3 separate regions of the Homo sapiens genome follow, and all the other regions are linked to region 2. Evidence: fine-mapped expression QTL. A gene starts in region 2. Each other region holds a variant in brackets. All regions are shown on one strand. Distances are from middle to middle. Region 1 overlaps BLK (BLK proto-oncogene, Src family tyrosine kinase). Region 2 holds the start of BLK-AS1 (BLK antisense RNA 1). Region 3 overlaps BLK (BLK proto-oncogene, Src family tyrosine kinase).

The links. PIP is the estimated chance that this variant, and not a neighbour inherited with it, causes the effect. A credible set is the group of variants that fine-mapping cannot tell apart.
Region 1: its variant is the best candidate, but not a certain one, in a credible set for the expression of BLK-AS1 in blood mononuclear cells (TOPMed, PIP 0.56).
Region 3: its variant is the best candidate, but not a certain one, in a credible set for the expression of BLK-AS1 in whole blood (TOPMed, PIP 0.84).

The regions. Positions count from the first base shown.
Region 1 is chr8:11,530,163-11,540,625 of GRCh38, reverse strand. All of the region lies in intron 1 of BLK (BLK proto-oncogene, Src family tyrosine kinase), which reads right to left. Among named protein-coding and RNA genes, the nearest start is that of BLK-AS1, 23 kb to the left of the region's middle. RefSeq lists enhancers at 1,536-1,615, 2,776-3,005, 8,472-8,531, 8,702-8,781 and a silencer at 2,298-2,462. The variant A/G (reference allele first, on the strand shown) is at 5,255.
Region 2 is chr8:11,553,993-11,564,107 of GRCh38, reverse strand. BLK-AS1 (BLK antisense RNA 1) reads left to right here and starts at 5,843. Exons shown (of 5, transcript XR_948956.3): 1 at 5,843-6,218; 2 at 7,447-8,042; 3 at 8,246-8,390; 4 at 9,905-9,964. BLK (BLK proto-oncogene, Src family tyrosine kinase) reads right to left here. Exons shown (of 13, transcript NM_001715.3): 7 at 9,219-9,365; 8 at 8,624-8,776; 9 at 7,271-7,450; 10 at 6,070-6,146; 11 at 2,656-2,806; 12 at 998-1,129; 13 at 1-205. RefSeq lists enhancers at 688-737, 5,384-5,673.
Region 3 is chr8:11,504,120-11,514,296 of GRCh38, reverse strand. All of the region lies in intron 1 of BLK (BLK proto-oncogene, Src family tyrosine kinase), which reads right to left. Among named protein-coding and RNA genes, the nearest start is that of BLK, 15 kb to the right of the region's middle. RefSeq lists enhancers at 6,142-6,371, 7,435-7,494. The variant A/G (reference allele first, on the strand shown) is at 6,114.

The DNA.
Region 1 (10,463 bases), 24 kb after region 2:
GCCATAGTTTTATGTAGCATTGTCTTGTAATTATTATACTCTGTTCTCTTTTTTGATTGTGATGTTTTTCTTGTTCCTAATATAAATGGAATGTTCTTTTAATTAAAATTATAATTTGTAATTGCATAAAATCATCTGAAGCTTTACATGACTAAATTAAGTCTTAACCTAGCTTTATAATTATGAAATAGAAGATTGTAATCAAAACCGCATGAAATTGGAATAATAAAAGTAGACAACAATCATCAGAGCAGAATAAAAAACATACAAACAGATTTTGGTAAATACAGGAATCGCGTATGTGAAAAAGATAGCATTTTAATTCAGTAGAAAGTGGATAGTTTATTTTAATAAATGGTATTAGGAAAATGACTATTTACCTTAAGGAAAATACAATTGAACCCCTACCTCACATGATATTAAAAAATAAATTCTAGGTGTATGACTGAAAAAAATAAAAAACAAAAATGTAATTAAAAGAAATGTAAGAAACTGTGTATATAACCCAGAGTTTGGAGACAACTACTAACAAAGATAAAATACCCAGAAGCGAAGAGAGAACAAAAAAAGTACAAATTCATAAACATTAAAAATATTAGATGGTATAAGAAACTACTCATGAAGTTCGTAGATAAGCAATAGATTGGGTAAGAGATTGCAAAGCATCAGATAAATGTGTATTCATAATATATACAAAGCTCATAAACTTTTGACAGGAAGTATATTGCAGCATATAATTCATTCAATAGAAAAATGTGTAAAGATAAGAAATAGGAAGTTAGTGCAACACAAACCCAAATAGTAAAATGTTTGTTATAATTATTGTTTCATTTGTTCCTTCACGCTCCATTTCTAGGATTAATCTTCTGTGAGAGCTGGAATCTTTGTTTTATTCATTGCTGAATCCAAATTGCTAAACCAATGTCTGGCACAGAGTGTGGGCTTAATAAATATTTATTAGACAAAACATGAAATATTATTGGAAGAAGCAATCTTTTAAATTCTTTTAAAGGGCAATCTTTTAAATTCTGTTAAAATAAAAAAGCACACATACCTTTTGATTTTCAGTCCCACTCTGGACTATCTCAGGTTAATAAAACATCATTATATAGACACATGTGAGAGATGAAAATGTTTGTTGTAGTAATAGTTGGAAAAACAATCCCCTCCCCCGAAAAAAAATCCCAAACAGAAAACAACAATGTAACTGCCCAGCAATTGAAGACTTGTTGAATAAATCTACACTCTATAAATCTCTCATACAACTACTAAAAAAAATGTGCTGGATCTTCACCAGTGAGGTCAAGAGGAATTTCGGTACCATGTTGTTACACGAGAAAAGTAAGACCCAAAGAGGTGCATGAGGGAATCCCATATTTGCAAACACCAAATGAAAAGAAACCTCTATTCAGGCGTGTAGATATGTTTGCATATTACACAGAAAGAGGCTGGGGAGGATGAACACCAAGTTGTTTACTGTGGTTATTGTTAGAGGAAGGGAGAGTACAAAACAGAGGTGTGGTGTAAGGCAAAACAAAACAAAAAAAAAACCAGCGGACTTAAAAAACGGTGTGTGTGCTAATGCAAAGCAGGTCCCACCAAAGTATTTTCTAAATGGATTTTGGATTATAAGACTTCATGTGACTTTGACTTTCTTTCTTTTAATTGTATATATTTCTTAAATTCTTTAATACTAAGCATATATTATTGATACAAGCAGAAAAATAAAAGGAGGATTTGAGTGATTTGCCCAGCAACAGAGGAGCATAAGGCCTGGAGCCAGGGCCAGCCTGCAGTTCTTGACAATGACCGTTAAGTGGCCAGCCAGGGCTGCCTGAACCTCAGGCCTTTCGTGGCCTCTCTCAGCCTCCCTGACTCAACGAAGGGCCAGTGGTCAGCAGCTCCTAGTATATTCCCCAGACTTGGACTCATACTTCCGCATCTGCCCAGGTGACCAGCCCTCTTGTCTTTCTTAGTCTGGCCAGCCATATTGCCATTGACTTTAAGCTTCCTGGCAAACACCTGTGTCCACTGAGACAACATAATTGAACATTGGTTGTTCAATTTATTGAACAAAGAACCGGACAGAAAGTAAAATTCCTAAGATTAAATGACCCACTACTTACACTTCTGTCCTTTGACTCCTTAGCAGTGTGTGTGCAGATGATTTTCCATGGGTCTCATGAGTACCTCAGGTCTCTATGGGTCCCCCTACTCCAGTGGCTTTGACTGGAGACCTGGGTTCCTCAAGAGGCCATGGGACAACCAGGGCTGTCACTGGTGCTCGGGCTGCACCCAGCAGTTTCAGGTTGGGTGAAGCCAGGAAGTGCAGAAGTCCAGACAGAGGCAAAACGCATCACACACTGGCTGGGGCTCCAGATGGCTTTGCTGCATTGTGGGAAGGGTGTGAGTCTGTGTATGTTTGTGAGAGAGTGGGAGAGGAAGCATACACACTTATGTGCACTTGTGTGTGTGTGAGAGCGAGAGCATGCGTGTGAATACACATGTGTGTATGTGCTTGAATATGTGTGTGTATATATGTGTGTGTGTGTCTATGTGTGCACGTGTATATGCATGTGTGAGAGAGCATGCATGTGCACCGTGTGCATGTGTGTCTAGTCGGGGGAGTCAGCAAGAGGAGGGGAAGTGGGAAAGGGGAGTTGTTTGTTTATTTGAAACCAGCTAGGCCCTCTAATGCAGACTTTCACCAGAGCAGGGCAGTCAATGTTTGCTTTGGGAGATGCTCAAAGCCTGAAACACAGCTTCAGTCAAACAAGGGGTGTGGTGGAGGCATCAACTAAAAATAGAGAAACTAGAAACCCCTTATTTGCACTTGGCTAGCATGACATGGTTGAAAAGCACTTGACGGATAACGAGTTTTTCTTTTTTTCTAATACATGTTAGCCTTGATAAATTGGTTACAGTTATCCTCATTTTACCACTGAAGAAGGCGAGGCGAGGTGGCTTGGTAAGGTCATGCTGAAGGTGGCAGAGCTGGCAGCTGGAGGGTGTTACTGTCTCCAGGGCTGCTTGAGCCCTCTGCACAAAACAGGTGCACCTGTGGCCCTGCCTGAGGCTCTGTGTCCCTTGGAGGGGACAGTTCAGATTCCCTATCATCTCCCCTGTGGCAAAATAGTTTTGCTATTTTGTATCTGGAAGCCTTGCCATGTTATGTGCTGGAGGCTTTGCCTTTCTGATTTGACCTGCCAGACATAGGTGGGTAGCATCCAGGTAGAACAGGGGTACCTACTGGCAAAGCTGGGACTCACCCTGGGTGTCGCGATCACAATGCCATGCTAGCTGCCGGCATGAGATCCCATATGGAGCATCTCACCAACATCCAGAATTCCAAATTCTCCCAGTACAAACCACCAATGCTATACTCATCTTGTAAATGAAGAAAGTACGGTGATTGGCCTATGGCTCTGAATTAAAGAAGGGGCCAAAGAATTTGAGTTAAAATTCATGTTTCATGTCTCAACTCAGGACAACACCACTGAAATGAGGCTTCCTCACCTTTGCCCTAATACTGACCTCTCCACATGTGAACCTGAAACAGCCCCGATAACAGTTCCTAGCAACGAGGTTCTTCTATTCATTCAGCCACAGACATTCAGTTGCTGTCAACCATGAACTATGTCAGGCATAGCGGAAGGTACAGGCATGAAACAAGGATGGAGCCCACTCTCACAGGAAAATAAGGAGGAAAGGCATGCACCCGATTCCATCAGTTCAGAGTGGGCATGATTCTGTACCAAAGAGAGGCCTGGGTAAAGTGTTTTGTGAGCTCAGCAAAAAGAAATTACTTCCACCTGGGAGAAAACGCTAGCCAGACCTGAGAAGGATGGCTACAACAGATTTTTTTAGATGAAAACTATTTTTTATGAAACCTTCCAAAATATACTAAAGTCAAGAATATTGGCCAGGCACAGTGGTTCATGCCTGTAATCCCAGCACTTGCGAGGTTGAGGTGGGAGATCATTTGAGGTCAGGGGTTTGAGACCAACCTGGCCAACATGGTGAAACCCCGTCTCTACCACAAATACAAAAATTAGCCAGGCACGTGCCTATAAAAATTAGCCAGGCGCATGCCTGTAATCCCAGCTACTTGGGAGGTTGAGGTGGGAGAATCGCTTGAAACCAGGAGGTGGAGGTTGCAGTGAGCCAAGATCCTGCCACTGCACTCCAGCCTAGTTGACAGAGTGAGACTGTCTCAAAAAAATAAATAAAATAATAATATTAATAATAATAGAACTCTTCTACACTCATCACCCACATTCAATAATTATCTTTAAAATTGTTTTCTGGGTTGCAGTATTTTACATCATATCGTTTTATTTCCTCTAAATGAATGAAACTTGGAAACAACATGAAATCAATGTAGTGAAGCAAGTCATTTCACCACCCCATATTTTGCATTTGTTTCTAAAGCATGGAGACATTTGCTCACATAACCCCAATGTTACTTCATCACATCTAACAAAACTAGCAATATTTCCATGGTATCATCTAACCATCCAGCCATTGAACCCAATTCATAATCACATTTTAACAATTGACTTAAAAATAGCTTCTTGCTTAGTTTGTCCTACTCAGGATTCAAACAAGGTTCGTATATAACTCAACGTCTTAGGTTTCCTTTAAACAGGAGTCCCTTCTGCTCTGACTTTGGTTAGTTTCAAGCCTTTGATTTGTAAAGGCCAGTCCTATAGAATGTTCTCCATTTTGGATTTTGCGTCCTTGTGATGGTTCATCACTTGCTCTTCCCTCTCGTCCTTCTTACACATAGAGTTACCTCTGTAGGCTCCATTAGATTCAAGCTCAGCCCCTCTTGGTAGAGATGCTGTCGAGGAGGTGATCTGTGCTCCATGTTGCATCCTACCAGGAGGCTCACAGTGTTTACCTGCACCATTTTAGTGATGCTAAGATAGGTCGAGGCTCAGGCATCCCTATTCCTCCATTGACAAGTTCCTCACCGACATTTAAAAGTCCCATTAGTGGTTACAAAATGGGCGTGCTCTGATTCCATCAGTCCTTCCACACTTGTTAGTTGGGAGTTGAAAGAGCAAAGGATGAGAAACTGGGAACACTAGAAAAAAATACCAGGCACACTCCCAACAGGGTTGGGTAGTATTTCAGAAATAGGTGTTTTTCCAAACACATGAAGATAGAAAACACGTTCAGAAAACAAAGCTTTTCCATTGCTGGATTGTAGAGTGTGTGCTACAGTCATTCACAGCTAATGCTTTGTGCA[A/G]TATATCCCTTCCTTTCCTTTCCTTCCTTCCCTTCCCTTTTCCTTCTCTTTCTTTCTTTCTTTCTTTCTTTCTTTCTTTCTTTCTTTCTTTCTTTCTTTCTTTCTTTCTTCTTTCTTTCTTTCCTTTCCTTCTTTTCTTTTTCTTTCTTTCTCTCTCTTTCTTTCTTTCTTTCCTTCTTTCTTTCTTTCTTTCATTCATCTGTCTGTCTCTTGTCACCCAGACTGGAGTGCAGAGGCGTGATCATGGCTCACTGCAGCCTTGAACTCCTGGGCTCAAGTGATCCTCCCACCTCAACCTCCCGAGTAGCTAGGACCACAGGCACGTGCTGCCATGCCTGGCTAATTTTTTAAACAATTTTATGTAGAGGTGGGATTTCATCATGTTGCCCAGGCTGGTCTTGAATGCCTGGACTCAAGCAATCCTCCCACTTCAGCCTCCCAAAGTTCTGGGTTGGATACAGGCATGAGCCGCTGCATCTGGCCTCCTTGTGCAATACTTTTAAATGCCAGCAGAATCTTTTCCCAGCACTAGCACAGAGCCTGATGGTGAGAGGCTGCTCTGTAACACCTGGCTGGGTGTGTAAGGGCCTTGGGCACGTGTGGCCCCTGCAAAAGGCTGACCTAGCAATGCCAACCTGTGACTTTTAGGTACTTCGGCACAGTTAGGAGGAGAAATTATGTGGCCATTTCAATTTTTTAAAGTGAAAAGATCTTTTGTGGAAATTCACCTCCCCCCATTGTGGTAAAATTGATAGAAAAGATTTTCAGGTGGTAAAAAGTTTGAGGGTGCTGAGCAGACCTTCAGGAAGGAAGGAAGAAGGCATTTTTATAAAGCTGTGTTAAGTCAAAGACAGACACTTGTTTATCGAGTCACCTACATTTGATTCTGCTAACAGAGAAGCTTGAAATTCATTAGGTAATTCTGGGGACGGATAAAATTCCTTTATGTGAGTGAATTTTTTTGGGGGGGGAACACCATGTAAATTTATGTTTTAAAAAACTCTCACAGTAGTGATTATTAAAATATGTTAGCAATATGCCAAAATGTTAATCCAACTACAGTTGTGTCTTGTATTGATGAGACTATGGGCCTTAACCTATTTTTCAATTTTTAACTTTTTGCATTGTTTGCATTTTGAAAAATTAAATGAGAAATCAAATCATGGGTCATTACTTCCCAATGGAGTCAGTTATGATTCTTTGGCACAATAGTTCTGAAACCTCAGTTTGTATTTTAACCAGCAGGGGAGTTTGCAGACTCCCAACCCCAGCCCCAGCAGTGCTGGTATCTGCATTTTTAAAAAATGCCCCCAGTGATGCTGATGCAGGCAGGTCATGAGCTCCACTTCATGGAGACCCTTTCTTCAATTGGCCGAGCTTCTGGATCATGACTTGTGACAAGGATTGAAAGGCAGGCCCGCCAACACGGGGCATTCCCTCCTTTGAGTCTCCCATAAATAATGCCTGCAGTTTTACTGCCAGTGATCCTCTTGTCTCTCCATGAAATGAATTATTTCTGTCCTCCATACAAACATTTCTTACATATTAGTATATTTCTGCATAGCTTTTTGACAGAGGGAAATAACTTCCCTTTTTATAATAACTCACACCTCTGTGGTACTTTCCAGCCTGCAAAGCATTTTCCCACATGAGCCTCATGAGGACCCTGTAAACTAGATAGATCCTCCCCCTCCCCATCTCCCTCCCTCTCCCCCTCCGTCTCCTCCACCTCCCCTTCCCCCTCCTCCTACTCCTCTCCTCCTCCTTCTCCTCCTCCTCCTCCTCCTCCGGCAGACAGGGAAGAAACTGAAGCACAGAAGAGAGATTTGAGCCACATCTCTGACTTCAAACCCTTGGTCTTTCCCACGGAGGTTCACACGTATCTTACCCAGATACACATCTGGTCACGACTTGAACCTCTCTTAAAAGGCCCTGGACATCATTCAATCCTTTGGAGCTGTTTCTCCAATGTTTCCTTGGCAGAACCCAGAGGTGGAATGTGTAAGAAGGGAGCGTGCAGTGAGAAGCACCTCCATCGGGTTTGAGGGTGCAGGAGAACATTTAGACTGAAAGGTTCTCTTTTATGCTTTCAAACATGAGATTGGAAAATGTTAAAGAAAGAAAAAGAAAAGAAAAGGTCTCAGGCCTTTAACATGCTTGGGTTGATTGTAATTACTGAGTGGATCTAGAGACACAGATGTCCTGCTAGAGAGGCAGAGATTTAAAATTAACTCATAAAACGGTTGCAGGATTTGCCTATCACATAAAACATGAATACTAATGATGCTGGCACAGTGCCTAGTACACCTTCTGACTCAAGGCTGGGCATTTTACTGCATGCTTTTCATGTATTATATGTAGCCCTGACAGCAGACATATACCTTCCCATTTTACAGATGAAGAAACTCAGGCTCCTTGAGGCTTAAGGTCTTGCTGAAGGTACAGTAAGTCACAGAACTGTTATTCAAAAACCAATTTTATCCACAGGTAACTTAACAGTGTGCCACATGCAAGTGTGACACTCTCTAAAGAAACACGATAATATTCAGCGCTCACTAATCATATTCAGCACTCATAGTGCCTGTCATCCAGTAACAATTGCCAGGCATGCAAAGAAACAGAAAAACATGACTCTCAACTAGGAGAAAAGTTAATTGAGAGGAACATGAGCAGAAATTGCACACATTTTGATATTAGTAGACTAGTGCCTTAAAACAGAAATGACAAAAATATATAAACTGGTTCAAATATATAACTGAAAGCAATAAGACAATGAAGAGAGAAAATGAAGACATAAAAAAATTAAATGGGTCTCCTAGAGATTAAAAAAAATACAATATCTGAAATTAAGAAAAAAGAGAGGCCAGAAGTGGCGGCTCATGCCTGTAATCCCAGCACTTTAGGAGGCCAAGGCAGGAGGATCATTTGAGCTCAGGAGTTCGAGACCAGCCTGGCCAACATGGTGAAACCCTGTCTCTGCTAAAAATACAAAAAAAAAAAAAAAAATGAGCTGGGCATGGTGCTGCGTGCCTGTAATCCTAGCTACTTGGGAGCCTGAGGCAGGAGAATTGCTTGAGCCTGGGAGGCAGAGGTTGCTTTGAGCCAAGATCACACCACTGCACTCTAGCCTGGGCAACAGAGCGAGATTTTGTCTCAAATAAATAAATAAATAAATAAATATTAAAATTTTTTTATAAAAGGAAAAAAAAACATGACCAGGTACATTGGCTCATGCCTGTAATCCCAGCACTTTGGGAGGCCGAAGCAGGTGAATTACTTGAGGTCAGGGGTTTGAGACCAGCCTGGCCAACATGGTGAAACCCCATCTCTACTAAAAATGCAAAAACTAGCTGGGTTTGGTGGCAGGTGCCTGTAATCACAGCTACTTGGGAGGCTGATGCAGAAGAATCACTTGAACTCGAGAGGCTGTGGTTGCAGTGAGCCGAGATGGTGCCACTGCACTCCAGCCTGGGCAACAGGGCGAGACTCTGTCTCAAAAACAAACAAACAAACAACCAAAACTCTAGATGGGATGAATAGTACATTGGGTGCTGCAGAAGGAAGGTCAGAGGGCTTGGAGACACTGCAATTGAAAGTACCCACAGTGAAGCACAGGGAGAAAAAGGTGAACATAAACAACAGAGCATCAGTGACTGGGGAGAAATTAGCACGCAGTCAGAAGACACGTAACTGGGCTACCAGAAAGACTATGAAACTTAAAGAAACCAAAAATGGAAATTCCAAATTTGATAGAAGCTATAGACCCGAAGACTCAAGAATATCAACCCCAAGTATGAAGAAAACCACACCAAGGTACATTATAATCGTATTGTTGAAAACCAATGATAAATAAAAACAATCTTAAAAGCTGCTTTAAAGAGGTACATTATATTCTTAGAAGAAAACCTAGAAGGAAATCTTTGTGACCTTGGTGTCACAAAGGATATAAAGAATATGAGTCAGAAGCATACAAACGTGACCTTCTATTCCCTTAGAATAGATTATTCCCTTAGAATAGAAGATCATAAAGTATACAAGAAAAATTGATAAATTAGACTTTTCAAAATTAAGAACTTCTGCACTTTAAAAACACCATTAAGAAAAGAAATAGCTAAATCAGAGACAGGCAGGACATTTTTGAAAAACATGTATCTATATGAGAATATATAATTAACTTTTAAACTCTATAAAAGAAGCCAAAAATTCAATTTAACAAACAGTTGAACAGAGAAGACAGCTGAGCAGCACACAAACCCATGAACAGGTGTTCGGTGTCGTCAGTCATTAGGGGAATGGCAACTAAAACCACAGTGAAATGCCACCACACAACCACCCAGATGCTAAAATTAGATGACCGATCATACCAAGTGTTGGCAAGCATATGGAGAAACTAGAATGCTCACCTGAGGCTGATGGTAAGGTGAAACGAAACAACTTTAGGAAACAATTTGGGAGCTTCTTAACCTGTGACCCAGATATTTCACTTCTTGTTGCTTATCAAAGAGAAATAAAAACATATGACCACAGAAAGACTTGACATATATGTTCTTAGCATTGTTACTCATATTAATTAGCTCCCAGCTGGAAACAACCAAAACATTCAGTAACTGGAAAAATCTTTTCGACTTTTCACTTAAAATTGTTGCTGATTCTTTTTGTTTTGTTTTTCAGAGTAAAGAAAACTTCTACTGAGCTATTTACAACTTTTAACAATTGAGCAAAATATACTCCTGTAAACAAAATTTAGAGCATATTTCTTTCTCTTTACCTGCCTTCTCCAGAATTTGGAAATTATTTGTGAGTATTTTTAACATAAGGCAATATAGTTACTTGAGTAAGTTCAATAAGAATGTGTTTTCTTTTGTAGCAAGACACAGTTGGAGACACTGCTTATTTTACCAAGGCTTTGACTGAAATGACATATTTTCAGACTGCTTTAAGAAATCGAGGCTGACCTACAGAGATGATGAAAGCCCCTTGGAGGAACTGACCTCCTACCTTGTCCTGTACAGGATTCCCGACCTGTGGCAAATAAAGAATGTCACTTTCTGACAGGCCCAGGAACTCCAAGCTTTGTTGGGACCTCAAGAAGAAAGGAATTCACCCAATTCATACAAGTATCTGCAGGCACAAATAAATCCTTGGCTGGGCTCAAGAGACTTTTAAAAGGTCTAATCTGAGATTCCTTATGAAAAAAATTCCAGCAAAG
Region 2 (10,115 bases):
TAGGGCTGCAGCTCGTACTGCCGCTCGGTGGCCGTGTAGAAGTCCTCCAGCACCGACTGCAGGAACTCGAAGGTGGGCCGCTCCTCGGGCCGGCTGCGCCAGCACTCGGCGATGACGCCGCGGTACAGCTCGGGCGGGCAGGTGTCGGGGCGCGGCATGCGGTAGCCGCGCTCCAGGTTGCGGATGACCTCGGGGTTGCTCATCCCTGCGGCAGAGGAGACCGCAAGCGGGGGTGAGGGGCTGGGGTCCTCGGTGGGTGGGGGGCCCTGAGCGTCCCGCGGGGCACAGTGGGCCCAGGCAAGGGACAGCAGTGCCCACAGTCCCAGACCACTTCTCCAGCCTCGTGCGTTGCCTGGCTGCCCGGTCTCTAAACAGCCCTTTATTTACTTTTTATTGCCTGGGGAATGCCTAGAAATGAGGCTGTAGATTTTCTCCTGAGTACGGGGCAGGTCCTCTGAAGATGGGACCCTCCCTCTCTTGATTACCTGTGACCACCAGGGGCACAGCCAAGCCCATCACTCATGGGCAGCTGCCAGGTGCACACAGCAGCAGGTGACCCGGAGCCTGCCCACCTGTGGGGGCCAAGTGGCTGGAGCCCTTCGACTGGGGCTGGGGGCTGTCGTCCACGATTCTGGCCACACAGGAAGGGGCTTTGGGGAATCCACTATGGGTGCAAAGCCAAGGTAGGCACAACCTGTCCTCAACTGAGAACAAGCCACTGGGAGTAAACTTGAGTTCGGATGTGCCCTTTGTCTTGATTTCAGTTTGAGGGACTCATTTGACCTCTGCTGGAGGAAGGAGACACAGCCCTGTGGCCCAGAGCAATAGTGATGCAGGGGGCAGAGCTCCACCCCAGATGCCATGCCTGGGTCTCCGTCTTCGCTCTGGGACTCACTCTGAAAAGAACAGGGCAGCCACAGGCACCAAGCACAGGCGACCTGCCATCAGGGCCGGCCGGGAAAGCAGGGAGCCGCGAGCTGCGGGGTGAGCCACCTACCTGGGTATGGCACCCGCCCATAAGTGACAACTTCCATCAGGAGGACTCCAAACGACCACACGTCTGCTTTGATGGTGAAGACCCCGAAGTGGATGGCTTCCGGGGCTGTCCACTTGATGGGGAACTTGGCCCCTGTGGGAAAAGCCATGCAAGCTTTGGGAGGCCACGGCCGGTGGCCCCTACCCTCCATCCTCACCCCTACCCCTGCTCCTGCTGTCCTTCCATCAAGCCCCCACTGCGGGGCCTCACAGGGCGGGGCGGCCAGGCATGGCGGGGGAGCCACTACCGCACACCAGGACACATGACCAGGTGAGTGCAGACACGACATCAGCAGCACAGAAAGACGATATGGACACCAATACCACACAGTCACCCACTTTGGTTCTTTAAAAAGAGAGCGATGGCCTCAATGGGCAGCCACCACGTTTCCACCTGGGATGGAAGGGGCCTGTTTCACCTTACAGGGGCCTTGTTTAATTTAAAAGACATGGCCTGGGCAAGCCATTTAAACCTGCGGGCGCCTCCGTTAGTCCCTTCCTGCAAAATGGAAATGGTGACACTTGTACCTCCGAGGGCCGCTATGAGGAAGAACTCACATCCGGCTGCCCTGTGAAGCACCTCAATGGCTGCAGCCCCGGCCAGCATTTGGAGCAGACCTCAGGGCTTGGCACTTCACAGCCTCCCCTGGCCTCCATTTCTCGGTCTCCCCAGCCAGCCTGAAGTTCCCGAGAGAACAAGCCATATCCTGTCTGCTTGTCATCTGACTCATAGGCTCAGCAGACACTGCTTGCTAGCTTGATAAATATATGTGACCCCTTCAGATTCTCTTGTGACGTAGATTTCCACCTCAGTTATATGCACAGAGTAAAACAGTGCTCCGTGGACACCCTAATACAGGTTGGTTTGCTGATCGCACATGAGAGCTGTGTTTCCCACAGTGTGCTCTGTGAAAGCCTAATTCCATGGAAGGTTAATAGGGACTATATAAAAATAGTATTTGGGCATGGCTTACACCTGTCATCCCAGCGCTTTGGGAGGTCAAGGCAGGCAGATCACCTAAATTCAGGAGTTCGAGACCAGCCTGGCCAACATGGTGAAACCCCATCTCTACTAAACATACAAAAATTAGCCAGGTGTAGTGGCACACGCCTGTAATCCCAACTACTTGGGAGGCTGAGGCAGAAGAATTGCTTGAACCCAGGAGGCGGAGGTTGCAGTGAGCCAAGATTGTGCCACTGCACTCCAGCCTGGGTGACAGAGACTCCATCTCAAAAAAAAAAAAAATAGTATTTGGAGCTCAAATTAGTTTGGGAGGCACTAGGTGAGGCAAACATAAACTGTTTCTTTGCTGCAGGACTTCTCAGTGCCTTTAATATGTTGATGTGCACTGGGAATCTCCAAGACAGGGAGTAGGGTGGACTGCTGTTTCTCCAAACCTACCTTATCCTAAAGCTGTTCCTCCATGGGAGGTCTCAGGGCACTACCATTCTGCTGAACACATTTGGGTAAATGAAGGAAATGCTGATCTAGAGCTGTAGAAACCGTATAGCCCTCAGGTGTCTTCCCTCAGGGCTGTGCTGGGAGAAGTTAAAGGCGGCTTTGAGGAGCTGGGAAAGATAAGGCCCTAGGTTTCCCTTGTGGTTAGGGGCTGTGCTTACCCTCTTGGGCCGTGTATTCACTGTCGATGATTCGAGCCAAGCCAAAATCAGCAATTTTGCAGCACAAGGCCTCAGACACCAGGATGTTGGCCGCCCGCAGGTCGCGGTGGATGGAATTCATGCGCTCAATGTATGCCATCCCTTCAGCAATCTGAGGGAACAGGCACATGGTGAAGGACAGCCTGGGGGCCTCCACGCCAAGACCGAGCCCACACTGTGTCCCCCGCACAGCCCCTGTGGGCTGCTGGGGAAGGAGCTGTTTCTTGGATGGAGTAGAAAGGTGACTGTGTTGCTCCTCAGCCGAATAAACTCCTCTCCTAGAAGCCCAGAACAGCAACGCAGCAACGTGGGCATCAGAGACACAGGGGCTACCTGTGCCCCTCCCCCTCCTCGTTCTCGCTCCACACAGCTGTGTCCAAGGGTCTGCAGAGATGGAAGATAGAAGAACACAGGCAGGAGAAAAGGAGAGGGAGGGAGAAGAGAAGAAATGGTAAGGAAGGAGGGGGAGGGGGAGCAGGAGGCAAGGACAGGCAGCTCTCACTGGCTGGCTGGAAGCACAGCTCCTGGAGCTGGAGGCCCTCGGGAAGTCGCTGACCTCTAGCAAGCTGCTTAACCTCCCCGAGGGGCCACAGTCCTGACATGGAACATGAGGGATGTGGTCTCCAGGGCAGGGGGTTGAGGCAAGCATTAGACGAGGTTGATTTGTGACCAAGAACCTCACCCAGCGCCTGCCCCGTGGGGGCACCCAGGGAGCACTGGCAGATCCAGGTGGACAGAGGCTGTGAAGAAGAAGAGACTTGTCTCTCCTCCCCTGATCACCAGCCTGGGCCAGGGATAGCAGCTGGTGCTACTTGGCACCTTTTAGCTGAGGAAACTAAGGCTTTATTCACCCAATCAATGGACGAAGAAACTGAGGCAGAAAGCAGAGACCCCATTTACCTCTTCAGACATGCGACTTCAAGAAGCCAGCACTAGAATTGATTCCACTTCTCCTTATGCTTGCATTTTGTTGGTTTATCTATGAATCCATCCATCTATCCATGCATCCATCCATCCATGCATCCATCCATCCACCCACCCATCCATCCATCAACACATCCATGCATCCATCCATGTATCCATCCATCCATCCATCTATGCATCCTTCCATGTATCCATCCATCCATGGATCCATCCATCCATCCACCCACCCACCCACCCATCCATCCATCCACCCATTCATCCATCCATGCATGCATCCATCCATCCATCCATCCATCCATCCATCCATGCATCCATCCATCCACCCACCCACCCACCCACCCACCCACCCACGCATCCACCCATCCATGCATCCATCCATCCCCTTGCTACACCATGCAATCAATACTCATTTACTAATATGGGACTGTGGGGAATATAAAACTGAGTACTAAATATATCTGGGCAGCATCTAACAGTACTCGTTCTGATAACTAATATTTATTGAACAGTACCAGAAATATATTTTAAAAAATGTTGAGTAGGGCCCAGATCTGCTTTCAAGAAGAAGCTGCCCAGATCTGCTGAGCAAGAACAGTGCTTCCGGGAACACCTGAGCTAAGGGCTCTCTGGCAGTTTCTTGTCCAGGGAAACCTTCATAGAAATGACATTACGCTTGAGCCATGGATGATGATAAGGATTCTGCCAGGTGGGAAGTGTTCAAGGCTTCCTGGGCAGAGGAGGTAGAGGGGTGGCGAGGCATGGGGCATGGGAACCGGTGGCATCTGGCTGCAAAGTGGGGCCCGAGGGATTGTGATTGCAGGGTTCCTGTGGGGTTGGCCAGATCTGGCCTTGGAAGAAAGGTCTGGCGAGACTTTGCATGGCTTCCTATGGAGTAAGAAAAGAAGAGCCCAGAAGGGCCGGGTGTGTGTCTGCTCATGTGTGTGTAAGTTTGCGTGTTTGTGTGTGTGTTTGTGTGTGTGAGTTTGTGAGTTTGTGTAAATGTGTTTGTGTGAGTTTGTGTTTGAGTCTGAGTCTGTGTATTTGTGTGTCTGTGTGAGTTTGTGTGTGTGAGTCTGTGTGTCTGTGTGTGTGTCTGTCTGTGTGTGAGTTTGCGTGTCTGTGTGAGTCTGTGTATGTGTTTGTGTTTGTCCGTGTGTGTGTGAGTCTGTGTTTTTATGTGTGTGAGAGTGTGTGTGTGTACATGTGTGCTTAGAGAGCCATTGGCATGGTCAGCATGTGGTTAGAGGCTGCCCTTCTGGGAAGTTCTGATTTTCTGGCTCCTCACCCCCGATTCTGTGGCTACATCCAGGTATTAAACTCCGATGGCTTTTCACATCCTTTGCCCCTGGGTCACACGAGATTTCCCAAGGGGGTGTAGTGGGGATTGAATAGGAGACAGCGGAGGGTGAGAGAAGGAAGGGGAAAGGAAGCAGCAGCAGTGGGCAGGCTTATCACTGCCCTGGGGTTTGAAGCCGGTTACCAGCACTCATTTTCCAAAACCAGCCTGCCCAGATGGCTGTCTGCCCACCTCAGCGGAAAAAGGCGTTGTGGCATCAGTTCCTGCAGCGGCGCTACTGGGTAAGGCTGGGCGAGGGGCGAGGTGGGAGGGCTGATGTGGGCGGTGGGTGGGAGCGTTTCCTCTCGGTGGCAGCTGTATGTGTGTGTGTATGTGTACGCACGTGTGTGCCTCACAGGCTGACCACAGACCAAAACTTTTCTGCTGAGAGTTCCAGTTTTAACAGGGCCACCAGATGTGCTTCCTGCCAGCTAGAGCTCTCGGCTAAAACCCTCCTCTCCACTCTGCTCTTCACCCCATGGAGTCCAGAAAGTTCTGCATGTGAACGTGAGGGACACTGAGGACCAGTCCTGGGTAGCCAAGGAGGTCCAGCACTCGCAATTCCCTGGTGGCAGAAGGTGGGGCTGTCCTCCAGGGCTCAGAGAAGTCATGTCCCTGGCATCTGTGTGTAGCTCAGGCCTGCCCATCAGCCTGGGGTCGACGCCAGGGCTGTGCAAAGGCTGAGGGCCCCTGGGATGGGAAGTCCTACAGGAGATGTTTGTGGGCACCATCTAAGGAAGAGATGAGGTCACAACAGAACACACTTGCCTGCCGGGTTCAATGGAACTCTTGCTAACTCTGTGTGTTTCCCATGACATTCATTCGCCCTCTCTTCCTTCGGAACAGAATAGCCTCATTCCAACACAGCAGCCCGGGTCTAAGGCTCCATTCCCTGGGCTCCCTCACAGCTGCGTGGGGCAGGAGGCACAGTGGCCAGGGTTTGCAAGTCCAAGTGCAGTGGGTGACCTTGGGGATATCTGCCTAGAGGAAGGTGGCCTTCAGTACCCCCTGACTTCTCCTGCTGGCTGAGAGGATGGGGTGGTAAGGCACGAGCAGCCATTGTGGGCAGCAGGTGGCACATGCCGCCCTTTCTCTGCACCTGGTACTTCACCAACCTGCGCCGACATGTCAATCAGCCTTGGGAGTGACAATCTGCTCCCTTCATCTGTCTTCAGGAAATCCAGCAGGCATCCTAAGAAAAGAGAAGTTGCAAGTGCCCTTCTGCAAAGTGACCCGCCCCTGGTGGTGCCAGCCTCTCTCTGGTGTGAGTGGCTCCCCATGGGCGCGGGAAGTGGGAGTTTGCACCCTCAGATCTCTCGGTGCATCAGGAAGGATCTACCTACTGCTGCCGAGTGCCTTCCACTTTACAAAATGCCAGTCTCAGCACCCCGGGAGGCAGCCAATATACCAGCAGTTGCCCAGAAGTTAGGTTTCAGCCAGGTGCAGGGACCTGTCTGAAGTCACCCAGCCGGGAGCTGGGAGTGGGACCCCAGTTCTGACTCGAAGTTTCATGCCCCTTCTTGTCTTTCCCCCCGTGTTGGCCTCGCTCCCTTGATCCCTGCTGGCAGACACCCTCTGCCTCTGAGGACCAGGCATCAGCAAGAAAGCACCAGAATGGAGAGAACTGTCCCCCAGGTTTGGTGCAGGGGACAAATGCAGCTCCCCCTGGAATCAGAAAGCTGGGAGGGATGGATGCTTGCCCTAGGGGCAGGCTAGAGGCACCCCCAGCACAGCCTCCGACCGGGGGCCCCTTGGTGACAGTTGTTAGGGAGCTATATCAACATGGGCATGTTAGGATCCTATAGGAGCAGTGTGCGGTCAGGGTCATAGGAGGGTGAGAAAGTGGCATGAGAACTTGGCCACGCCGTGGACCTCAGAGGCCATCAAGCCCAACCTCTCTGGCCATCCTTGTAAAATATTCACACAGTTGTAAATGGTTGCATGACCAGGAGGCAGGAGACCTGGATCTAGTACTGTCCCTGCATGCCTGGCCTGGTGTTCGTCTGACTTTGCAATGCTCTGTCCCTCCCAGCAGGCATCAAAGAGTGCTAGGCACAGAAGATGCACTCCAGAAATGCTGTCTGAACTGCTCCTGGGCTGAGAACATGGCTCTGTCAGAACCACTTCACCCTCCTGTTTCTCACCCTCCCTCTGTCCCTCCCCCTCCCTCCATCCCTCCCTGTCCCCACACCGTGCCATGCCCTAGATCTGCAGGACCCCCTGGCCTGGTGAACCCACCGCAGCGGACCCTCCTCCTCCTGCTAAGCCCGGCCCTCCCGCCTCGCTCTGAGGATGCGGCTCTGCGGGGGGCACCACCTCTGGCCATGTACTCGGTGACAATGTAGATGGGCTCCTTGGTGACCACTGCGTAGAGTCGGACCAGCCGCTCGTGCTGCAGAGCCTTCATCACGTTGGCCTCACCCAGAAAGGCTTCTGGAGACATGGTTCCCTCCTTCAGCGTCTTAATGGCCACCTTCATGTTGTTTTTGTAGTAACCTGAGCCCGGGGGAGTGAAGAAGCCAATCAGAAGACAGAGAGCTTGCTCGGAGGTGATCCCTTAACCAAAATCGGGGTAAGTGCCCAGGTGCCACCCCATTCCAGGTGCCAGAGCTGGAACATGCAGTTCCGGAGGCCATGGTTGTGTGGTGCCTACCTTGCGTTCCAGGTCCCTTCTATATGGGGCCTCAGGCAGTGGAGGAATGTACCCTGCCTGGGGGGCATTTCACCTATTTGCCCCACACCCTGGGCCTGTGTCCTTCTGTCCTGCACGGAACCTGTGTCCTTCCCCCACCCCTCCCCTACATAATGAGTCTCTTCTATCACACAATAACTCCTTGGTGGAAATAAGCACACAGCCTGGGGTACACTGGGCAGGAGGATGACGCATGGGGGTCTCCTTCCCTCCTTCTGAAGCCCCATGGCGATCCTGTCCCACTCCTTAAACTATCTGTATCTCCACACTCTCCCTGTACTCCATGAAGTCCCCTGAAGGGCAAAAGACAACTCTACTTGCTTTTCTAGAGGACATGGGCCTTGGCAGGGACCTGGGTACAGCTCCTGCCAAAAGCACCGTGGGCATCAGCCCCAGGTAAGGGAGCACTCATGGACCAGCCCCAGGTAAGGGAGGACTCATGGACCAATCCAGGGATAAAACGGAACACGAGTTTTATATCCTGGTGGGCGGGGGGGGGAAGGGGGCAGGTGTCAGCAGCGATGGAAATGTGAGGACACCAGGCCTGGAGCTTCAGTGACTTGGCCAAAGTCCCACGGCTGCCCTCGGTGTGCACTCAGGCTCTGGAACATCATGGCTCATCACGTTTAACCTCCTGTTTCCATCTGGGTGATGAAAAGCTAAGGGGAGTTAACGCGCCGCTGCAGCTCATTGTCAAAGCCAGCTTCAGGCAGAGAACGAAGGAGGGAGCGACTTCGGGGCTGGGTGAGCTGGATTCTGTTCCTGCTCTGCCACCACCATAAGCGGTCCCAGCTGTTACAACGCGGCTCTGCACCTCCACTTCCTCCTCTGTAAAATGAGTGTCCTCGCCTCTGTCCTCGCTCCCTCTCAAGACTTCTGGGGGAGGGATGACACGCTATGAAAATGCTGAACCTGGACTCAGGATGCGGCGCAGGTGGAATGGGGGGAGAAATGCTCCCACGTGTGCACACACTCACCCATCCAGACTTCGCCGAATTGTCCAGACCCGAGTTTCCTGACCAGCCTGAGAGACTGCCGGGGGATCTCCCATTCATCCTGGGCCCAGGGATTCTGCGGGGCCGGGCGCACACAGGGCAGGGTCAGCCTCTGGCATAGACCATCCCCCTTCTCTGCATTAGGGAAGAAAAGACAGGGCTGGGGGTTACCAGAGCAGCCAGGCTCTACCTTGGGAGCTGTATCATTCCTAGCTGGCCCTCCACTCCCCAGCCACCCCACCCCCTGCATGGGTGTGTGCACACGCCTGCACATGCACACACACTCAACTCTTTCTCTTCGTTTGCGCAAAGCAGGGCATGCTATCTCTAAAATCGACCTGCTCACTCTAAGACTGAAAATGCTTGCTACTCTCTAAGGGGTTCCCTGCTGAGCCAGGAGAGGGAATTAGGGCCACCAATTCCCGGTGCTCAGAGTTGCTACCTCCTTAGGCCTAACTTTGGGATAATCTTTCCATCCCCCAAGGTGGCACCAATGACTCACACAATTGGGAATCTTAGCGAGAGATCCAGGGGCTCTTGGCACAAGTCCCTGCCCCCATTGCACGCCCCCTCTTACTAGAATAGTGCTGCACCAGGGCCTGGAGCGAGGGGAAGGTGATCCGGGGGGAGATGTAGTAGCCCCCTTCATCCAGGCAGCGGATCTTATAGTGCTTGATCAGCTCCCCCTGGGTGGTGACATCCTTCACAGACAGGGAGAAGGCACCTGGAGGGTTCATGAAGACACACACGAGAAGTAAGGCACAAAGACAAAAAACGGGACTGGGATTTGGGCCTCATTTTAAAGCTTTGAAAAAAGTTCCCCAATTCTGTTCTTCATTATCAGCACTCCCTCCACAAGTTTCCTTTCCCTGCATCTCAACCTCCATGCTTTTGGAAGCCTCCCCTGTAAGTTCCATCTGACTCTGACCTTGGCATCCCCCCACTATCCTGCAAAACTCAGCCAGGGAATCACAGAGCCCTGCGGCAGGCAGCACAGTTTCTCAGCAATCATGTAGGTCCCCACTTGGGCATCTGGTCACTCGGGGACCCTTTGTCATGGACTATTGAGAAATCTAGTCTCGTTGGAGTGACTAGGGGCTTTATTTTCTGGCTAAAGAGGGTATCTCTTACTCCTACAAGCAGATAGCCATTCACAGCTGCAAGTACCCATGTCCATGGCGGACACCGTAATAAGCTATGCCCAGGGGCTCTGTTCAAAGTCATTTGCTGCCTGTTACATACACCTGTTATTTTGTCTTCTAGGTTAATGTTTTCCCGCAGGCAAGTGGTAGCAGATGTCAAGGGTTAAGGACAATTTAGGAGGTAAGAATTTCCAGGTAAGAAACGCTTTTCCATGAACTTGATGTTTTTATAAAATGCGTCTGTCCAGCTACTTGGGTACCATGACCTTACCCCGCCCCTTACCCATTATTTGGGAGATGAGGACGCTGGGGCCCAGCAGAGTTCGCGGCAG
Region 3 (10,177 bases), 50 kb after region 2:
ACAGTGGACAGGAGTACCCTGTGGACAGATCAAGGCTCTATTTGCTGAGTCCTGTCTTTCAGCTGAATTGGAGCAACCGTTAGACTCAGTGACAGGTAGCACATGGTCAAGGTGACCAGGGACAGAGACCTTGCCCAGACCCTGTTCACTTGAAATAACAAGGATTTTCCTCCACTCATTTCCTGGGATACCAAAACAGAATGGTTCCTTGTGCCAGAAGGGAAGGTCCGATCCCCTTGGCAGATCCTGTGTCATTACGAGTTTTATTGGGTTCAATGTCATAAAACACCACAGCCATGGAGACCTATAAAATGCCCCAAACATTTCCCTTGCAAAAGTCAGACCAAGGAGTTGAATTATTTCCAAGGTGCAGGCTTCTCCGAGTGATGGGAGACTCTGAATCCACCTGGGTCGGGCCCAGCTGCTCCATTACCCCAAGCCCCCTTCACACAGGGTTCTCATGCAGTGCGCGGCGGTGGTGTGGACTGCCCGCCAACCACACTTAAATCACATGGAATTCAATAAACGTCCACAACCTGTTCTGAGCACCACTCTATAACTCTGGCTAACTATTTAGAAGGCACTTTGGGAATGCAATGCCTCAAAGGCCTCCCTGGATCACTTGGTATGAATTTTGCAGCCCAAGGTGCAATCTTGTACGAGTCACTTCATCTCATTGCTTCTGTCTCTGTGCAGCGAGGGCTGTGGGTGGATGATCTCTGAGTTGCCTCCAGCCCTAACATTCAGGGGCTATGATTGCATCGCAGATTTAGGGGATGCTGAGGGACAGACAGCCTGGGCTCTGCTCACAGCTGCAGAGAAAAAGTGTGCAGCCTGGAGATGGTCCAGCCCTGGCACTCTCATGCCCTAAAGGAGCCTGGGGGTAACACAGGGCTCCATCAGGAATGATGCTCTGGTTTCTCTTCGTCTCTCCACTCCCTCTCAGTCTCCACTATGGTCCACGAATCACCAAGGTCTTCATTGCTGCCAGCATCAGCCTTGTACCCCTGCTTTTCCATCTCCCCCTTCCTACCATCCACTCCCACTTCAAGACACAGAGGTCCTAGTTCATCAGCCAACTGCGTGTGGTGCATTGAGGACAAGCCCTGGGACCCAGCATGCTCTGTAAGGCTCAAGGCCAGAGACCAATCTAGGCCGTGGGCATGGACAGTAGGGATCTCGTAGGAGGATAAAACAAGAAAAGTAAATATTTTATCAAGGACAAAAAAGAACTTCAAGAGACTCTTGCTTCAGACTTCCATGAATAAATAATTCTTTTAGAAAGGCAATCATGTTATGTGGCCCGTAAGACCTTAAAATTGAATAATCTGACCAGCCGCGGTGGCTCACGCCTGTAATCCCAGCAGTCTGGGAGGCCGAAGCGGGCAGATCACTTGAGGTCAGGAGTTTGAGTCCAGCCTGGCCAACACAGTGAAACCCCATCTCTACTAAAAATACAATAATTAGCTGGGCATGGTGGTGGGTGGCGCCTGTAGTCCCAGCTACTCAAGAGGCTGAGACAGCAGAATCACTTGAACCCAGGAGGGGGAGGTTGCGGTGAGCCGAGATTGTGCCACTGCACTCCAGCCTGGGTGACAGAGCAAGACTCTGTCTCAAACAAACAAACAAACAAACAAACAAAACCAGAAGCCTGTGTAATTTGCAGTAAAATTTTAAAATCTCTCTGAGCCTCAATGGCTTTATCTATAAAGTAGAGGGTGGAAATATGTTTTCTGCCTGCCTTAAAGGATCAAATTGATAATACTAAAATAATTTGTAAAACATGAAGTCCCATGTAAAAATCTCTGTTGAGACCCAATTGAACCTAAATGATTAGAACTGTTGGGCTTTCAGACTATCCACATCTGTGTCAGATGGCTGACATGTCGTCAGAGTGATTTCAGGGTGGGGTTTAGGATGAGGAATTTTACGTGCTTATAATGATATTGGCTAGACCTTGTTAAGAGATCATAACAAGTTCTGGAAAAGAGCTAAACAAACAACACAGTTTTCTGTGGTGTCCTCCACAGGTCTGCTTGAAGAACTAGTCTTCGTTCACGAGGTCATCCACACATCACCAACTCTGTACCCATTAAGTCATCCCTTCTTCTGATCCCACAGCGCTTCTTACAGACCAGTAGCATAGAACTTGCGTGTCTGCCTTCTAAACCAGACTCCTCCTGAGCTCTTCAAGGAAAAGCCATTTTGTTTGTTTGGTTGTTTATCTTTGTATTTTCAGGCCCCATCTTACCACTTGATACATTGTAGACATGCAGTAAATCTTTCTCTTCTTTGAACGAATAAATTAAATAATCAAACAATCACAGAAAACCCAAACGTAAGAAAATGCTTACTTTTCCACCTCCCGACAGCATCCACTGCCAGAAAGAGTAAATAGTTTCATTTACCAAGACAATGGTGGAAAGATGTCATTCATACTCCCAACCAGTGTTATCCTAAATATTGATTATGGATCATTAGCCAATACTTTGGGGTCAAGAGGGCACATTGATCTCATGTTGAATGTTGCACTACATCTAAGACGCCCAAAATGAAAATATAATTTTCTCCTTTTTGTTGCATGACTGTTTGCCGTATTTCAGGAAGTCCATCCCCTTTAAAGACTGCTAGTTTTCAACAATAATAAGTGGGAAACCTAGCAGAGATTCCCAGAGGAAGAAAGGAGAAGAGAAATTGAATTACACCCCATGTTCTTTGCTCCAGGTATACACACTTGTGTTTAAGGAAATTTAAGACAGAATTTCTAAGAGAGAAAGCAAATCAAACTTTTTTAGGAAGTCAAACCCGCTGACTGGTGCCAGAGTTTGTTGTTAACAGAAACTGATTTTTTTTTTAATACTTTAAGTTTTAGGGTACATGTGCACAACATACAGGTTTGTTACATATGTATACATGTGCCATGTTGGTGTGCTGCACCCATTAACTGGTCATTTAGCATTAGGTATATCTCCTAATGCTATCCCTCCCCGCTCTCCCCACCCCACAACAGGCCCCGGTGTGTGATGTTCCCCTTCCTGTGTCCATGTGTTCTCATTGCTGTGTGAAGACAAAAGACCGAGCTGTATTCAGGAATTCAATGAGCTGAAGTCTCCCACTCCGTTGGGTGGAACTTTTGGGTTTGGTCTCTTGAATTTCAAGGTTTCTTTGGCTCCTTCAGCCTCAAATAGTAACATTTCAGTTTGGTAAACACAGCTCACCTCCTATGGTGAGTGTTTGTAGCAGGAAAGAACAATTAACTAACCACAAATATTTGTGTGTCAGTCTGACTCCCTGGTGAGAAATGCAAAGCTTACGGGGATCCATGTGTTTTAAAATGCCAAAGCATTTCCTTTAGTTAAGAACCACGGACGGCCATAATCAAGGCAGAATCTCGTACTTTAACACATTAGCAATTAGCTTTGGTTAAAAAAGTAGAAATAGAAGCAACTGCCTTAACAAAGAGGCACTTTATTTATGTATTTATTTATTTATTTATTTATTTATTTATTTATTTATTTATTTGAGATGGAGTCTCTGTCATCCTGGCTGGAGTACAGTGGCGCTATCCCGGGGATAATATATTCCCTATCCCATTACTGGACCTCTGTATGTAGGCAAAGATCTTTCGATTTCTTTCATTTCAATCTCGGATTCCCAGAAAGGGGGAAAGAGACAGAGAGAGAAAGCTGGGTTTTTTAAAAAACATTTTTGGGGCCACAGCCCCCGTTGAGAACCTGATGGAACTACAGACACTATCCCTATAAAATACACTTATCACAAACATGCCAAATTTTGTGCTCAGCTTCAGGACCTCTCCCCCGACAAAGCCCCACAATCATTCATGGACTTCTGATTAGAAACCCTGGTTTAGATGATGGGACAAATGTACCCAAAGCCTTGGGGTTTGTTTCCTTATGAGTCATTTCATTTCACAGAGAGGAAAGTCTGCTCTCTGGCCAAAGACCACACCAGTAACCCTGGCCAGCAAATATGGCCGTCAAGGAGCTGGAGAAAAGAGATGAAAAACTCAAGTCACTATCACACTGACTTTAAACGCAATTTAAAGCTTACCCCACGCCAGCCCCCAAATGAATGTTTCATCTCCCCATATCATCGTAATTCCTTGAAGGGATTAGGAAAGAACACTCTCCAGCTCCACGATGTAATTCAGAATGACTTTGCAAGCTGCATTTATTTTTTCAATCATCACCTGCTATGGTGATACAAAAATATGGAAGCAAACGAAACACCTGATTGAAATGGTGATAGAGTTCACACAGTGAAATATTATGCAGGCCCAAAAATGATCATTTTGAGTCCTCAAAAGTGATCAAAAGTAGCAGTGGGAAAGATGCTTATGTTATAATAAAAAGAAAGAAAAAGAAAAGAGAAGAATCTAAGGTGCTATGTCTTTATGATTCCAGCAATGAAAACTGCGCATCAGATAAATCAAAATGGGTAGCTCTTAGGTAAAAGTGTTAGGTTGCCAGTGTTATTGATGGTTTATATCTATTTTCAAAATTTTCTAGGGTATTATATAATGTTTACAGTTTAAAAGTCAGGAGAAAATGACACATCTGTACAAAATCAGCCTGTTCTTCCAAGTGGCTGTGGCCAGACTGCCCCTCTAAGTGGTCCAGCTCTTTCTGTGGCTTCTCTGGTGATTAGGCTGAAAAGGCAGCCGGGTCGCCACAGACCCGGCAGAGCACCCCCAGGCTTAGACAACCACAGAACCCGAGCTGGGAGACTGGAAACACTGGCAAGGGCGCAGTCACATCCCAGCGCCCACCCTGCTTCCTATCAGCCCCCGTGCAGTTCAAGTCTGCCGCACAGAGACTGGCTCATGGAAGCTGGTGAGGCATTTCCATGTCTAAATCCACGTGGGCCTCTGATTTTTGGATTCACGTCATCCATGAATTGGCTGTGAGTCAGATATCAATGACCTGTCCAGGGCAACAGCCCTGTGGATGGTGGATGGTAAAGTCCCTGGGCTGCCAAGCCCCAGGCCTGGCTGGCTTCTTGCTGGCATCAGCTGATGCTGGAAACCGAGCTGGGGTCCCGATGACATCCCTTCGGGTGCTGTGAGGTTAGCTGCTCCCACAGCAGCCACCGAGAGAGAGGATTGCCAACTTTTCGTGCGGTGTAACCTAAAGGAGGGGTAGCAGCTTCAACAGTTAGGCAGCCACTGTGACCTGGTTAAGGGTTATGGTCAGCACCTGAGTCATTGTTGTGATGCCTCCTAAGTAATAGCAGTGCCAGCTGCATGCAGCTCATGGCCTGCTTGCTCCCCACAGGCTGGGCTGCTAACGACCTCCCTTGCCTGCAGCTGGGGGGAATTGATGAGTAGGAGGCACAAAAGGCGCCCAGCATTTCCTTCCCAAAGCTCTCAGTGGATGGGCAGGCACCTCCCTCGAGCCCTGAGAAAACCCCTCCACCACGGCTCCTCTGGCCTCTGCAAATGTCAGTTGCTCCCTTGTCTGATGGCCCCAAAGGGCAGGACCGGCCCCCATCACAGTTGCGTTTGGGTCAGAAGGAGAGATGGGTGCACACAGCTGACACTACAGTGGCTGTCTTATTTCTGCCGCCCGAGGCCCAGCACAGTGTCTGGCTTTCTGCACATCCCCGTAAGTAATGATTGACTAGTGACAGTTCCAATTCCAGGAGACCCGAAGGCAGAGGGAATGCGGGAGAGGACTGACATGAAGTACCTTCTGGTATAGGGTGGTCAGAAGTGGAAAGCAAGGAAGAAGTGAAAAGCCACGGGTGGGGGCTGGAGCTACTGCGTGGACAGGAATGTGGCTCACCAAGAGGGGGCCAAGGAAGGTCCCACACATGATGGCTTCGCCATGGGGCCATGTCTTCAGGCAAACTTGTGCCAGAGCCCCCTAGCGGAGGAAAGCTGTTCTGGATCCCAGGTTTTCTGAGGCCTACAGTCACCTAGCACGCGCCCCATGTGAGCACAGCTTGAGCTCACCCGTTCTTGGCTCTTGATCTACCCCCAGTAGCTGTGCATGTGTCTGCAAGCCACGGGTGATTTCCCAGCATGTGCTTAGCCTTCGCGCCGTGACACGCTTCTCTTGCCTTACAGTAGTGGCAGAGGCGGTGGTTAATGA[A/G]GACAGATGGAGGGTTCAGAGCACTGGCTTTGGGGTCAAACAGTCCTGAGCCTGCACTTTGGCTCTAGTCCTTCCCAGCCCTGGGCCAGTGGGCAGGTTCCTGATGACATCACGGGGCTGTTGTGAGGACCACATGACTTTAGGTTTGAGAAGCACCCAAGGCCTGGTGATGACCCCCTACTTGACCAGTGTGCCTGATGTGCCACACAGAGCCACCAAAGGGTGCACTGGAAGGCCGTTGACTCTACCCCCGATTAGCAGTGCTGGGCCCTGAACCCCAGAGAGAGGAAGTCACCCAGCCAGACAGCAAGGCCAGTGCTCACGTGTAGAAATGCTGGCTCGGGGAGAAAACTAGCTTGCCATGGGGTGACTGTCTTTAGCAATCTCTTCCCTGCTCTCCTGGCCTCAGGTTCCCCCTCCAGTCCTAATCCAGGTCACCATCCTGCCTCACTGTCATCTGCACCCTAGGCCTGGCTGATCTTTGGCACCCACTGAGCTGTATGTTGACATGGACCCAGTAACCCCCAAACCCCCAAGCTGGTCCATTGGGACTTTCTGATTCGCCTCTTCTAAATTCCAAGTGCTTGGCCACTCCTTACCTGGACCTTTTATCTCCACTGGGTCCACTAAGCTCCTGTCTCTTCAAAGTTCTTTTAAAGCGTGACTTGCCTTCTTTTAAAAGCTCCCAAAAGCCCTCAGGGTGGGTGGTGTCTTCCCCTGCAGTTGGGGTGGTCATCCCTGCCTTTCTTGAGGGCCATGACAGGCCCGTCCCCTGGGAGGATCCATTAGTGACATCTACATGGTGGTCCAGGCCAGGGCCACTGCAAATCCAGGACCACTCCCAGGGGCAGGGTTTGCCAAGGTGGGAAGGTAGGACATTCTGCCTTATTCTTTTACAATCCTAGTCCATCGTCCTTCCAATTCTAACTAGTTGTCAAGCTGTCCTTCCTCCCTAGCCCGCTTCAGTTTCCTTCCCCACTTCACTCTTCCTCTGCCAAGGGTGTTGTTACTTGGCTCCTGGCCTTGTAAAATCACAGTGTACATTTATACTGCATGTTGGAAAAAACATCAATGTCACAAGCTCAGTGATGCTTACACACTGCTCTGTCAGCAGATGGGACAGGCTACCTGCCTTTCTGAGATTGTTCTTCCTCCTATTTGTTATTTTCCCTACCCGCACCTGAACCATTCACGATGGTTCTGCACCCATTGTCACAGGAAAGCAGAAAGAGAGACAAAAGAACTTTCCTGCTTTCAGCCCGTGATGCAGATCTTTCAGCCCGTGACTGAGAGATCTTGTTGAGTCAGTTTGGGCAACCGCGTCTCAAGTGGCCTCCCTGAGAGTCCCACCTGGGGGGCCCCAGAGTGGGAGGATGCATCCCTCAACCTGGGATGTGGCCTGGAATCTCTGAGAGGGGGCTTGGCCAGGGTCAGAGGCTGACATGACATTCTAGCAGCCCCCTGCATGGACTGATGACAAAGACCAAATAGGCCACCCCAGAATTCCTGAGACTCATGAGGCTCCCAGAACTTAGACCCCACCCTGGAGAAAGGTATGAAGACCCTGAATTGAGAGGTCAGTTTCCTCTCCCCAACAGAGATGTAGCTATTACCAGATAGCTTTTCTGTTTTTGCACACCAAGCTGTGGACTGAGATTCACACTCAACATACGTAAATCCAGTCTGTCAGTCATTCACCTGAGCCCACCCACACCCCTCCAGAGGCCAGGAACGCCCTCATAAGAAGCCTAACCTGCCCTTCCACCTTCCATGAAACTAGTGCCATGGCCAACAGTTACAAGGATTCAGCACATTCTGTTGTTTTCTTTTTTTCTAAAAAATGATAAATGAGCCAACTACATCTTTCTGAGTGTCTTCAGGCTGTGACCTTGGGAAGGCAAAAAGCCCTGGCATTGTCCTCCCCTAGGTCTGCAAATAGGACATAAAACAGCTTCAAGCACATTCAAGGTCACCTTAAAGACACCCCACGATGTGGCAAAGAGACAGCTCCAGAGCCAGGCTGGTAACCTTCTGCGTGACCTCAGGAAAAGCACTCAGCTCTCCAGGTGTGCGGTGGGGAACCAGGATGAAGAGCCACGTGCACCTGGCACCTGGCCCAAAACCTGTTCTACCATCTGCCTCCCTGTTGGGCCCACTGTGGGAAGAGATTTGTCATGCCTGGCGGGGACAGGAGCAGGGCGAGAGGAAGATGGGGAGAGGTCTTATCGGAGGCAGGGACATTAGGACTGGACCTCCAAGGATACATAGAAGCTCTCTGAAGGAGATGGGCATTTCAGGCAGGGAGTGGAGTTGGCAAAAGCTCTGAAGTGTCATGTGTGCCAGGGAGTCCTCAGGGACAGGACAGATGGGCCCAGCGTGCTTGGAGAAGAAAGGAGACCCAGACTGTCCACTCCCTGGAGGCCTCAATGGGAGACTTGGCCCTTGTTCTCAAACACAGAGGAGTTTATGGTGGCTTTACCCTGTGCGGTGATAGGGCCACATTTGAGTTTTAGAAAGACCTTGGCAGCCACACATGGGATGAATTGGAGCATCAGATTCTGAAGACAGAGAAATGAGCTCCAAGGATGCGGAACTGCCCAGTCTAGAAGGGGGAGGGCCTGAACGAAAGCAATGGAGCTTGGGAGCAAATTGGAGAAAGGAGAGAACAAGTGTTATTACAACTTTGCCCTCACTCAGGGACACCGGCCAGAGGCTACAGTTGGCCCTGCATTGAGTTATGAGTGTCCAGGTCACCCTCTGGCTTGGCAGGTCACCATGCTGTGCTCAGGGACAAGGGGTGGAGGGAGCGGGTGCTGTCTCCCTTCTCCAGGCCCATTCCAAGTAGAAAACAGAGATCTCTTGCTATTTGACAACAGAAAACTTTGTACAGTAGAAAGAATAGAAAGAACTTTGTGAAGGATGATACTCAAGTGACTAGATTTCTACAAAATAGATGAGGTTTAGGAAACTTTATGGCACAGAATTTATTTGTTCAGTTTTGCTGCAATAGTATTTGTCATGGTAGGTGGTTTTGCTGTTGTTTTTGATAAGCATGTAGATGTACCTGTATGTGTGCCTGTGTATCTTTGTGTGTTCCTCTGTGTCTAGGTATTTCTACATGTCTGTGCATGTGTGTATATGTGTGGGTGTCTGTGTGTTTCTGTGTGTATTCTTATGTGTATGTGTCTGTATCTATGTGTCTGTGTGCATGTATGTGTCTGTACGTGTCTCTGTGCATGTGTGTTTGTGTGTACATATGCTCTGTATCCATTACCCCCTTGCCTGAAACATGGCCACAGAGATGTCCTCATTTTGGTGTTTCTTGTCGTAAAATCCTTGAAACAAAGTCCACATGGGCCACTTAGGCCAAACACCACATGCTGGAGAGCACCAGGGTGCCCAACACTAAATATGCCAGCACCCTTATCAGGCCTCATCTCAAGGGTGGGAACAGGGGGCACACTCCTCAGTCGCTTAGACCGTCCTCAAACAGCAAGTCACCATATTGGAGACAGTTTTTGAGCACATGCTCCATGTAGCCTGAGCTAGTAGCCCCTCCCGCCTGCAATTAACTAAAAGTATTTAGCTACGAAGACTGATAAAAGATCTTAAACGCACGTCCCTGTGATGGCATTACACACGGATAACCAGCTTCTGAAGGCGCCTACTTCTCCCCCTTCTGAAGGGCCTACTTCTTCTTCTGTGGCCCTTTCCTTGGCCACAAAGGGGTGTGGCTTTTGTGCAGGTGAATGGGATCTTTTCTTTTTTTTTTCTTTTCTTTTCTTTTCTTTTCTTTTCTTTTCTTTTCTTTTCTTTCTTCCTTCCTTCCTTCCTTCCTTCCTCCCTTCCTTTCTTTATTTTGAGATGGAATCTCGCTCTGTTGCTCAAGCTGGAGTGCAATGGTGCGATCTCAGCTCACTGCAACCTTTGCCTCCTTGGGTTCAAGCAATTCTCCTACCTCAGCCTCCTGAGTAGCTGGGATTACAGTCGCACACCACCACACCCAGCTAATTTTTGCATTTTGAGTAGAGACAGTTTCGCCATGTTGGCCAGACCAGTCTCAA